Regions from separate parts of the Homo sapiens genome. Here all the other regions are reported to be linked to region 1. Evidence: microRNA targets listed by miRTarBase, many of them from high-throughput screens and not tested one by one. Region 1 holds a microRNA gene; each other region holds the end of a gene's coding sequence.

Evidence for each region. Region 1 holds the annotated microRNA hsa-miR-6840-3p (GCCCAGGACUUUGUGCGGGGUG, at 1,291-1,312, shown strand). A microRNA usually pairs through its seed, bases 2 to 8, with sites in the 3' UTR of a target mRNA and lowers its output. Matches are read on the target gene's strand: a 7mer-m8 pairs with bases 2 to 8, a 7mer-A1 pairs with bases 2 to 7 and ends in A, and an 8mer does both.
Region 2: miRTarBase lists NUGGC as a target of hsa-miR-6840-3p. Seed matches in the 3' UTR shown: 7mer-m8 at 437-443 and 7mer-m8 at 754-760.
Region 3: miRTarBase lists ABCF1 as a target of hsa-miR-6840-3p. The part of its 3' UTR that is shown has no 7-base or 8-base seed match.

What each region holds. Positions count from the first base shown.
Region 1 is chr7:100,355,406-100,358,524 of GRCh38, forward strand. MIR6840 (microRNA 6840) reads left to right here and starts at 1,246; the gene lies at 1,246-1,316. It overlaps PILRB (paired immunoglobin like type 2 receptor beta), which reads left to right and starts at 2,712. Exons shown (of 4, transcript NM_178238.4): 1 at 2,712-2,961. The coding sequence starts at 2,898. STAG3L5P-PVRIG2P-PILRB (STAG3L5P-PVRIG2P-PILRB readthrough) reads left to right here. Exons shown (of 17, transcript NR_036570.1): 13 at 1,345-1,478; 14 at 2,815-2,961.
Region 2 is chr8:28,020,677-28,023,751 of GRCh38, reverse strand. It overlaps NUGGC (nuclear GTPase, germinal center associated), which reads left to right. Exons shown (of 19, transcript NM_001010906.2): 19 at 290-1,788. The coding sequence ends at 435. Among named protein-coding and RNA genes, the nearest start is that of SCARA5, 30 kb to the right of the region's middle.
Region 3 is chr6:30,590,320-30,593,394 of GRCh38, reverse strand. ABCF1 (ATP binding cassette subfamily F member 1) reads right to left here. Exons shown (of 25, transcript NM_001025091.2): 24 at 3,017-3,075; 25 at 1,873-2,860. The coding sequence ends at 2,694. Among named protein-coding and RNA genes, the nearest start is that of MIR877, 7.5 kb to the right of the region's middle.

The DNA.
Region 1 (3,119 bases):
TCCCATGGCCACCTGCTGGGCTAACGGGCTGGATTTAGACTCTGCCCATGTTGGAATCATGCCCTCCTCCAGGGCCGGTGCCTCCCAAAACCCCCCTCTGAGAGAGAGCCACAGCCCCAGGCTTAGCCCCAGGCCCTGTCACTGCTGTTGGGGGAGGGAGGATGAACCATCCGGGAGGCCTCACACCATTCCAGAGCAGAAATCCTGACACAAAAGGAATCTCCCATGGGGGTTCAGCTGGGTCCAGAGCCCGGAAAGTGACATAAACACGCACCTTGCATCTAAGGAGAATGCACGTGGCGGTACCGGGCCTGAGGCCCCTGGGGAGTATGTACCCTCCAGAGCTACCCAGAGGCTGTTGGCTAAAAGTTCTATGTGGCCCCCTCCTTGGGCAGCCTGGTAAGCAGGTGACCTTCTAGCTGGGTCCCATGGGCCACGGGCAAGGCAGGAATGGAACGAAGAGTCAGTCCTCAGTGGCTGGGTGTTGTATCCCATGCCTATAATCCCAGCACTTTGGGAGGCTGAGGTGGGCAGATCACTTGAGGCCAGGAGTTTGAGACCAGCCTGGCCAACATGGTGAAACCCTGTCTCTACTAAAAATATAAAAATTAGCTGGGTGTGGTGGCACACACCTGTAATTCCCAGCTACTTGGAAGGCTGAGGCAGGAGAATTACTTGAACCCAGGAAGCAGAGGTTACCGTGAGCCAAGATCACACCATTGCACTCCAGCCTGGGCAACACAGCGAGAATCCATCTCAAAAAAAAAAAACAAAAAGTCCTCAGGCAGGGTGGGCCACCCTCTTGAGGCCTTGCCCAAACAGCCAGGGGGTCCCTTGTCCTCTTTTCGGCCCACCTTTGCAGGTGGGACCAGTTCAGTCCAAAGCCCCGGTGCCTCAGTTTCCCTGTGGGTTGAACAAGGAGAATGAGGTGTATAGGGCCTGGCTCAGACGGAGGGGTTTCCTGAGCATGGGGAGCCTGTTTCCTCAGACCTGTGAAGGGAAGGAGGGTGGATCGGCCTGACTGGCCCTGGGAAGCACAGAGGAGCCTACTGGGACCAGGGAAGAGACTGACAAGAGAAGGGAGGCCTGTCCCTGCCTGCTTCTGTCTCAAGAAGATTGTTATCACTTCCTCTGGTGAAATCCTGCCTTCCTGTCCCCACGGCCCCTCAGCTGATGCCACCTTACTCTGGAGAGGATGGGCAGAGCCTCCTATGGAGGGAGCCCTGTGGGTCACCAAAGCTCCAGTGACCACCCCCGGGCAAAGACCTGCAGATCCCCTGTTAGAGACGGGCCCAGGACTTTGTGCGGGGTGCCCACTGTTGCTCTGAGCCTTCACTTCCTCAGGGAGGCTTCCTCAGGATCTCGAACCTGCGGAAGGAGGACCAGTCTGTGTACTTCTGCCAAGTCCAGCTGGACATACAGATCAGGGAGGCTGTCGTGGCAGTCCATCAAGGGGACCCACCTCACCATCACCCAGGGTGAGTCCAGCTGCCCTGGCACCAAGGAACCTTCCTGGTTCAGCCATAGGCTCAGGTGTGTGGAGGGAATGACCTGAGGGGCTGTATGAGGGAACAACCTCCTGGGGCTCCCCTATGCCTGAGTTCCTGCAACTCAGAAGTTGAGGCCCAGAGATCCAGGTAGAGGGGGCTCCAGTCCTGGGACTGCCCTGCAAGTCATGTGGCCTGGGACAGGGCTTCTCCAAGCTCTGTCCCCTCCTGTGTAGGGCAGGGAGGTCAGAGGGGACCCTGCAGATCCAGTCTCATGTCTGGGGGTCAAGGGGTGGCCTCGAGAGGGACCAGTCTCTGTGTAGGGGACCGTCAGCCCCCTCACCCCTTGAGCAAGACTGTGGTCCCTGCACCAAGGGAGCAGGCCTGGGGTGGGAAGAGGCCAGCTGGGCTGTGGTGGTGCCTGGGGACTGCATGGGAGCCCCTGCCAGGGAGGGAGAGGGACAGAGGACAAGCTGGGGGCTCTGGTGCTTGGGCTGGGGGCTGAGCGCCTGTGACCTCCACTGGCTTCCTCCTTCTCCTCTCTGAGGACTGAATCTGGGGTGCAGCAGAGCACAGACTCAGGCCCGCCTTTCCTCTCCCTGAAAGAGCCTGCGCTGGCCTTGGACAGAGAAAGGGATGAGAAGTGAGGCTGAGTGCGGTGGGGTCTGCAGGGATCCAGGTGGGAGGGGCCCAGCCAGCCAAGGTGAGGCCCAGCCCCTCAGCAGGAAGATGGGCACTGGGGCCCTTGGGCAGGGCTGACTTGACACTTTTGTGTGACTTGAGCCACTGTGCCCAGCCTGAACACCCTTTCCTGGTAAAACACTCCACAAACCAGGAAGAGAAGGAATGTACTGCAACAAAATAAAGGCCAGTCATGCAAGGCCCATGGCTGAAAGTCTTTCAGTCATTTTAGATGAAAGACTGAAATCTTTGCCTCCAAGATCAGGAACAAGAGAAGGATGCCCGCTCTCACTACTTCTATTCAACACAGGATTTGAAGTCAGGCCGGGCACAGTGGCTCACGCCTGTAATCCCAGCACTTTTGGAGGCTGAGGCGGGCAGATTACTTGAGCCTATGAGTGTGAGACCACCCTGGCCAACATGGCAAAACCCCATCTCTACTAAAAAAAAAAAAAAAAAAAGGATTTGAAGTCCTGGCCGGAGCAATTAGGCAAGGGATAAAAAGGCACCTAAGGCCCTTTTGCAATAAGAAGCCAGATGGATAAAGGAAGTGCTGGTCACCCTGGAGGTGTACTGGTTTGGGGAAGGTCCCCGGCCCCCACAGCCCTCTGGGGAGCCTCACCCTGGCTCTCCCCACTCACCTCAGCCCTCAGGCAGCCCCTCCACAGGGCCCCTCTCCTGCCTGGACAGCTCTGCTGGTCTCCCCGTCCCCTGGAGAAGAACAAGGCCATGGGTCGGCCCCTGCTGCTGCCCCTGCTGCTCCTGCTGCAGCCGCCAGCATTTCTGCAGCCTGGTGAGTACCCAGGACCGCCCAGGTATGGTCTCTGCCCAAACCACAGGAGGGGCCAACCCAAGACAAAGGCAGAACATCTGGGGCAGGGGCCAGGCTCCCACCTCCAGCAAACAAGGGCGGGTCCCATAGGGGTGGGTGCCGCCATCTCTTCCCCCTCC
Region 2 (3,075 bases), not on the chromosome of region 1:
TTATTGTGCAACATGCTTTGTATATCACACACCTGTGAAGCCTTAATACAGACCCAGTGACTTCTCAGGGTTTTTCTTATGGGTAGGTTTGGGTTTCTTTTGAGGGTGACCCCATGCTGAGAAAGCTTTCTGGTAAGAGGAGGAACACCTGCTTTGATGTCTGATCTGTAAGCACCACTCCAGATCTCATATTCTGGGACAAGTGACAGGATTGTTGGGGGATTTGCTTTCTGGAGACGTTTCTGCAACGGACACCAAGTCCTGATGTGAGCTTTCTGCTCTCCTGTAGATGTCGGGAGTGAATACAAGGAGATGGAGAAGCTGCACAGAAGCCTGAGGGAGGTCGCGGAGAATGCACGGCTGAGGAAGGGCATGCAAGAATTCCTCCTAAGGGCATCCCCCAGCAAGGCTGGCCCCCCCGGGACATCACTGTAACTCCTGGGGCTTAGTCCCAATGGATGAAAAATCAGCCCAGAGCCAGAGAATTAGAATTACTTTTTTTGTTCTTAAGAGACAAGATCTATCTACCTCTGTTGCCCAGGCTGGAGTGCAGTGGCACCATCACAGCTCACTGCAGCCTCGAACTCCTAGGCTCAAGCGATCCTCCAGCCTCAGCCTCCAGAGCAGCTGGGGCTACAGGTACAGGCCACCACACCTGGGTAATTTTTTTTTTTTTTTTTTTGAGACAGAGTCTCGCTGTGTCACCCAGGCTGGAATGCAGTGGTGCAATCTCGGCTCACTGCAACCTCCACCTCCTGGGTTCAAGAAATTCTCTGCCTCAGCCTCCCAAGTAGCTGGGATTATAGGCGACTGCCACCACACCCGGTTAATTTTTATATTTTTAGTAGAGACGGGGTTTCATCATCTTGGCCAGGCTGGTCCTGAACTCCTGACCTCGTGATCCACCCATCTCTGCCTCCCAAAGTGCTGGGATTACGGGCATGAGCCACCGTGCCCGGCCCATACCTGGGTAATTTTTTAATTTTTTGTGGAGATGGCATCTTGCTCTGTTGCCCAGGGTGGTCTCAAACTCCTGGCCTCAAGTGATTCTCTCCCACCTCAGTCTCTTGTGCTAGGATTGCAGGCATGAGCCATTGTGCCTGGCTCAGAATTCTTTCTGTTTTGTGAAATCTAATAGAGGACATTTCTCAACTATTTGGACTTTGCATGCAATATAAAACTAGTATGTTTACTGCATTTTATTTTATAGCCCCAAAGAGTCATCTTCAATACCTAATGGAGTTCTAAAGCTTTAGGGCAAGAAACTTTTGCTTCCGCAAAAACATCTAAACATCGCTGGGCATGGTGGCTCACTCCCGTAATCCCAGCACTTTGGGAGGCTGAGGCGGGCGGATCATGAGGTCAGGAGATTGAGACCATCCTGGCTAACACAGTGAAACCCCATCTCTACTAAAAATACAAAAAATTAGCCAGGCGTGGTAGCATGTGCCTATAGTCCCAGCTACTTGGGAGGCTGAGGCAGGAGAATCGCTTGAACCCAGGAGGCATAGGTTGCAGTGAGCCAAGGTCGCGCCACTGCACTCCAGCCTGGACGACGGAGTGAGACTATGTCTCAAAAAAAAAAAAAAAAAAAGAAAAAGAAAAAAATATATATATATACACACACACACCCATACATAAAAAAACTTAAACATTATAGAAAAAACATTGCACGATATAAAACAAGCCATAAAAAGAAATTCATCCTTCAATAAAGAAAAATATCTAAACGTTGAAAAACTTAAGTATTATGGAAAACATTGCAAAATAAAGCTTTTAGGAATCCAATTCTGTTTTTTATTTTAGTACTGATGAGACTTTGGGTAAGGAGGCAACATCGTATCCTGGAAACAAAATGGGTTTGGGAGCCAGATGAACATAGACCCGGCTTCATCACTTCTCAGATGTGTTATCTAAGGCCAGCACTTCCTAAACATTTTGATCTCAGGACTCTTCACTTTTAAAGGACGCTGAGGAGCCTTTGTTTATGTGGGTTATGTCTGATGATATTGACTATTCGAAATTAAATAGGAGAAAATGTAAGTAATTATTTACTAACTTTTTTAGAAGTAACAATAATAAACCCATTACGTGTTAACAAAAATAACCCATTGTTATGTAAAAAGCTATTTAAAAAAAAGGTACTGAGAAGAGTAACATTGTTTTACACTTTTGCAAATCTCTTTATTCCCTGGCTTAATAGAACACAGCTGGATTCTCATATCAGTTTCTTCATCTACTCTGTTGCAATATATTGTTTTGGTTGATGTATATGAAAAAAATTCAGTCTCACACAGATATACAGTTGGAATACAAGGAAGTATTTTAATAGCTTTTTCAGGTAATTTTGGGATATATTTTGATTCTACAAAGGCAGATGGCAGTTTCTTAAAAGTTAATTGTGGTGTGGATCTGAAAGCATTATCAGTGAACATTTTTCAAATGCTATTACATTAAAGTGCACTGGTTGATTTTGTACTTTGAATGATTTTTTTTACTAATGCATGATTTTGTGATATCAGGCATTGCTCATCTTGAAAATATTTATTCGCTGAGTTAAGCAAATATTCCAAGTGTTGATGCATTTTATTGTATACTACCATGAAATCATTTTGTTAGTGTCTTCACCAATCTCATCAGGAAAGTATTGCAGTATTGGGAAGCTGTCAAGCTCACAGTGAAAAATATGTTTTACAAAATTCCATCTCCCCCCCAAAAGCTCATCTTATCATTGATGACAAATGTTGTCAGTTGCTTTCTTTGAAGTGATAGATTCACTTTCCTCATTTTTAGGAAAGTGTTTACTATATAACTGTATATGATGAACTATAGTTTGTCAGTCATTATTTCAAATAAAAATGATGTTCCAAGAAAAAAGTGTCAAGTTCAGCCTGAAACTCAGACACTCAAGGAAATGCTTTTCTTTGCAGAAGTGCTTTAAGTGTATTTCCCATTTTGTCCCACAGAATAATAAAATGACATCTACATAGATGTCCATAATTAATACAATTAATAACATACTGTTTCATTTAGAACATTTTAAAGTCCAACTGGCTTTTTAAAAGCCCTGAAAGT
Region 3 (3,075 bases), not on the chromosome of region 1:
GGCTAATGGCTTGTCCAAGGTCACTGCCAAGACCCTGACTTTTCCCCCTCAAATTCCATAAGAGGCATGTTTCCTGATGTCTTTTGGTTTTTGTTTGAGACAGAGTCTCGCTCTGTTGCTCAGGCTGGAGTGCAGTGGCGCAACCTCGGCTCACTGCAACCACTGCCTCCCGGGTTCAAGCAATTCTCCTGCCTCAGCCTCCTGAGTAGCTGGGACTACAGGTGTGCACCACCACGCTCGGCTAATTTTTTTGTATTTTTAGTGGAGATGGGGTTTCAATATGTTGGTCAGGGTGCTCTCGAACTCCTGACCTCATGATCTGCCCGCCTCCCAAAGTGCTGGGATTACAGGCATGAGCCACCATGCCCGGCCTCCTTATTTTTAATTTAGAGTGTTCCCTGACTATGCAGCTATCTCCACACCAAAACTTCACTTCCTGTATGAAGCTTGTACTTGAAGTCCAGTATTATTTATTCACTTGGCTGGAAAACAATTTCCCCAAATTAAATGTCCAAACAGTTAAATCTTAGCCACACAGCTCTCCCTATTCCCTCTGGAACTGGATATATCTCCTGTCACTCCCTTCTCCCCAACCTCCACATCTGCTCTTTCCATCCCTATCTCCCCTAGCTAGTTTAGGATTCAGTTACCCCATTCCCGTAACAAAAGTTATGGGCTTCACCCTGCAGGTTTCTACAGCACGCCTTGCACATCACCACCTAATACCACTACCCACCATTTGCATTTTACTTTCCAAACCCATCTCCCCAGTCTAACTCTTAAGAAAAATGGCCACAGCAGCTATCATCCATTAACTCCCAAGTAGCTTGTTCTTCCCCCCAAGCCTGAGATCTGCTCTTTTCCTACTTCTGAAAAATGGCTCCCTGGTCCCTGATTAGTCAAATCATCATTTTTCAAGATCTACCCTCAAGTGACCCTGTCAAATAATCAGGCCCTGGATAATCTTTCCCTTTTTTGAGTATGTGGCAACTTAGAATCTAGAGTACGACATATTAGACAATTGATCAAATTAATTATCTATTCATGCTTACTTTTAAGTCTTCTCTAACCAGACTATTAATGAAGGCAGATCTTGTCTCTTCCCTTCTTATATACCCCACAGTACCGTACATTTTGGCTAGATGATTTAATAATTTTTGAGAGAATCAATACCCTGGTCCCTGGCCACAGGGCAGAGCACCTCCTCATTCATGAGATTAACTTGGACAATGAGACCCAAATTCTGGCTAGGCGTCGTGGCTCACGTCTATAATCCCAGCACCCCAGCACTTTGGGAGGTCGAGGTAGGAAGACTGCCTGAGGTCAGGAGTTCAGGACCAGCCTTAAGCAACATAGCAAGACACTGTCTCTACTAAAAATTAAAAAAAAAAAAATTAGTTGAGTGTGGCGGCACATGCCTGTAGTCCCAGCTACTCAGGAGGCTGAGGTGGAAGGATTGCTTGAGCCCAGGAGGTTGAGGGTACAGTGCACTCTAGCCTGGGCAACACAGCAAGACCCTGTCTCAGAAAAGAGAAAAAAAAAGAAGTTGGGCACAGTGGCTCATCCCTATAATCCCAGCACTTTAGGAAGTCAAGGTAGGTGAATTACTTGAGGTCAAGAGTTCGAGACCAGCCTGACCAACATGGTAAAACCCTGTCTCTATTAAAAACACTAAAATTAGCTGGGCCTGGTGGTGTGTGCCTGTAATCCCAGCTACTCGGGAGGCTGAGGCAGGAAAATTGCTTGAACCCAGGAGGTGGAGGCTGCAGTGAGCCAAGATCATGCCACTGCACTCCAGCCTGAGTGAAAGGGCAAGATTCTGTCAAAAAAAAAAAAAAAAAAAAAAAGGAAAGAGACCCATGTTCCAAGATAGAAGGTATGAATCACTTTGCTTTTTCCTTGCGTGAAGGGTTGGGGGAAAGGAATCCTATGATCCTTAAACAGCAAACACTGTCAGCAAGACTGCAAACAAGATCCATTTAGTGGGGAAGAGGGGACTATTAAAAGCTGCTAGAAAACTGAATAAAGCAAATCAAGACTGAGAACAGTTCCAACTCCCATCAATCTCCAAACAGTGACAGGTCGGCAGCAACTCCTTTCCTTTATTTCTTCCCCTTGTAAAGGGAAATTCAAGTTCAGCAGCATTCCTTTCCTGCCCCAAGTCCTCAACCAGACAAGAGGCTGCAGGCACCAAATCTTGGGCTGGATAATGGCAAAGGCCTCAGAAGCTCACCTCCAGCTCTGAGCTTCAACAGCTGTTTGTACCAGTGAGTCAGCATTAAATCCACCAGAAAAGAACAGCACCACCCAAAGACTGGGGGGCAGCTGGGCCTGAAGCTGTAGGGTAAATCAGAGGCAGGCTTCTGAGTGATGAGAGTCCTGAGACAATAGGCCACATAAACTTGGCTGGATGGAACCTCACAATAAGGTGGTCACCTCTTGTTTGTTTAGGGGGATGCCAAGGATAAGGCCAGCTCAGTTATATGAAGAGAAGCAGAACAAACAAGTCTTTCAGAGAAATGGATGCAATCAGAGTGGGATCCCGGTCACATCAAGGTCACACTCCACCTTCATGTGCCTGAATGGTTGCCAGGTCAGCTGCAGGCCAGAGGCAGTCTTCAGAGGAGGGGAGACCACAGAGGACTTCTAGGCCACACAAATATGTCTCTCGGGAGACTTCTGGGAAGGAAAGCTCACTCTCGGGGCCGGCTGACCATGACTTCACCCAGGGCCTCCAACACCTCCCGCTTGTAGTCTTCAAAGTCACCATCGATTTGGCTAACACTCTGCTCCTCCACCACCCACAGCTGGCAATTGGTTTCTGTGATGAGTCGGGCATCATGGCTGACAACGATCACAGCTTTGAAGAAAGATAGCAACAACAGAGGGCAGGAAGAAAGGAGAAAGAGGGGAATCAGAACATGAAATAAGGGAGTCCTAGGCCCTTCTGTAGTGAAGGACACTACAGCTTGGTCCCCATGGAGCAGGGATGAGGGCACACTCTCAGCTGACTTACCACCCTTGTATTCATTGATGGCCTCCCCTAGAGCATCAATAGACTCTATGTCCAGGTTA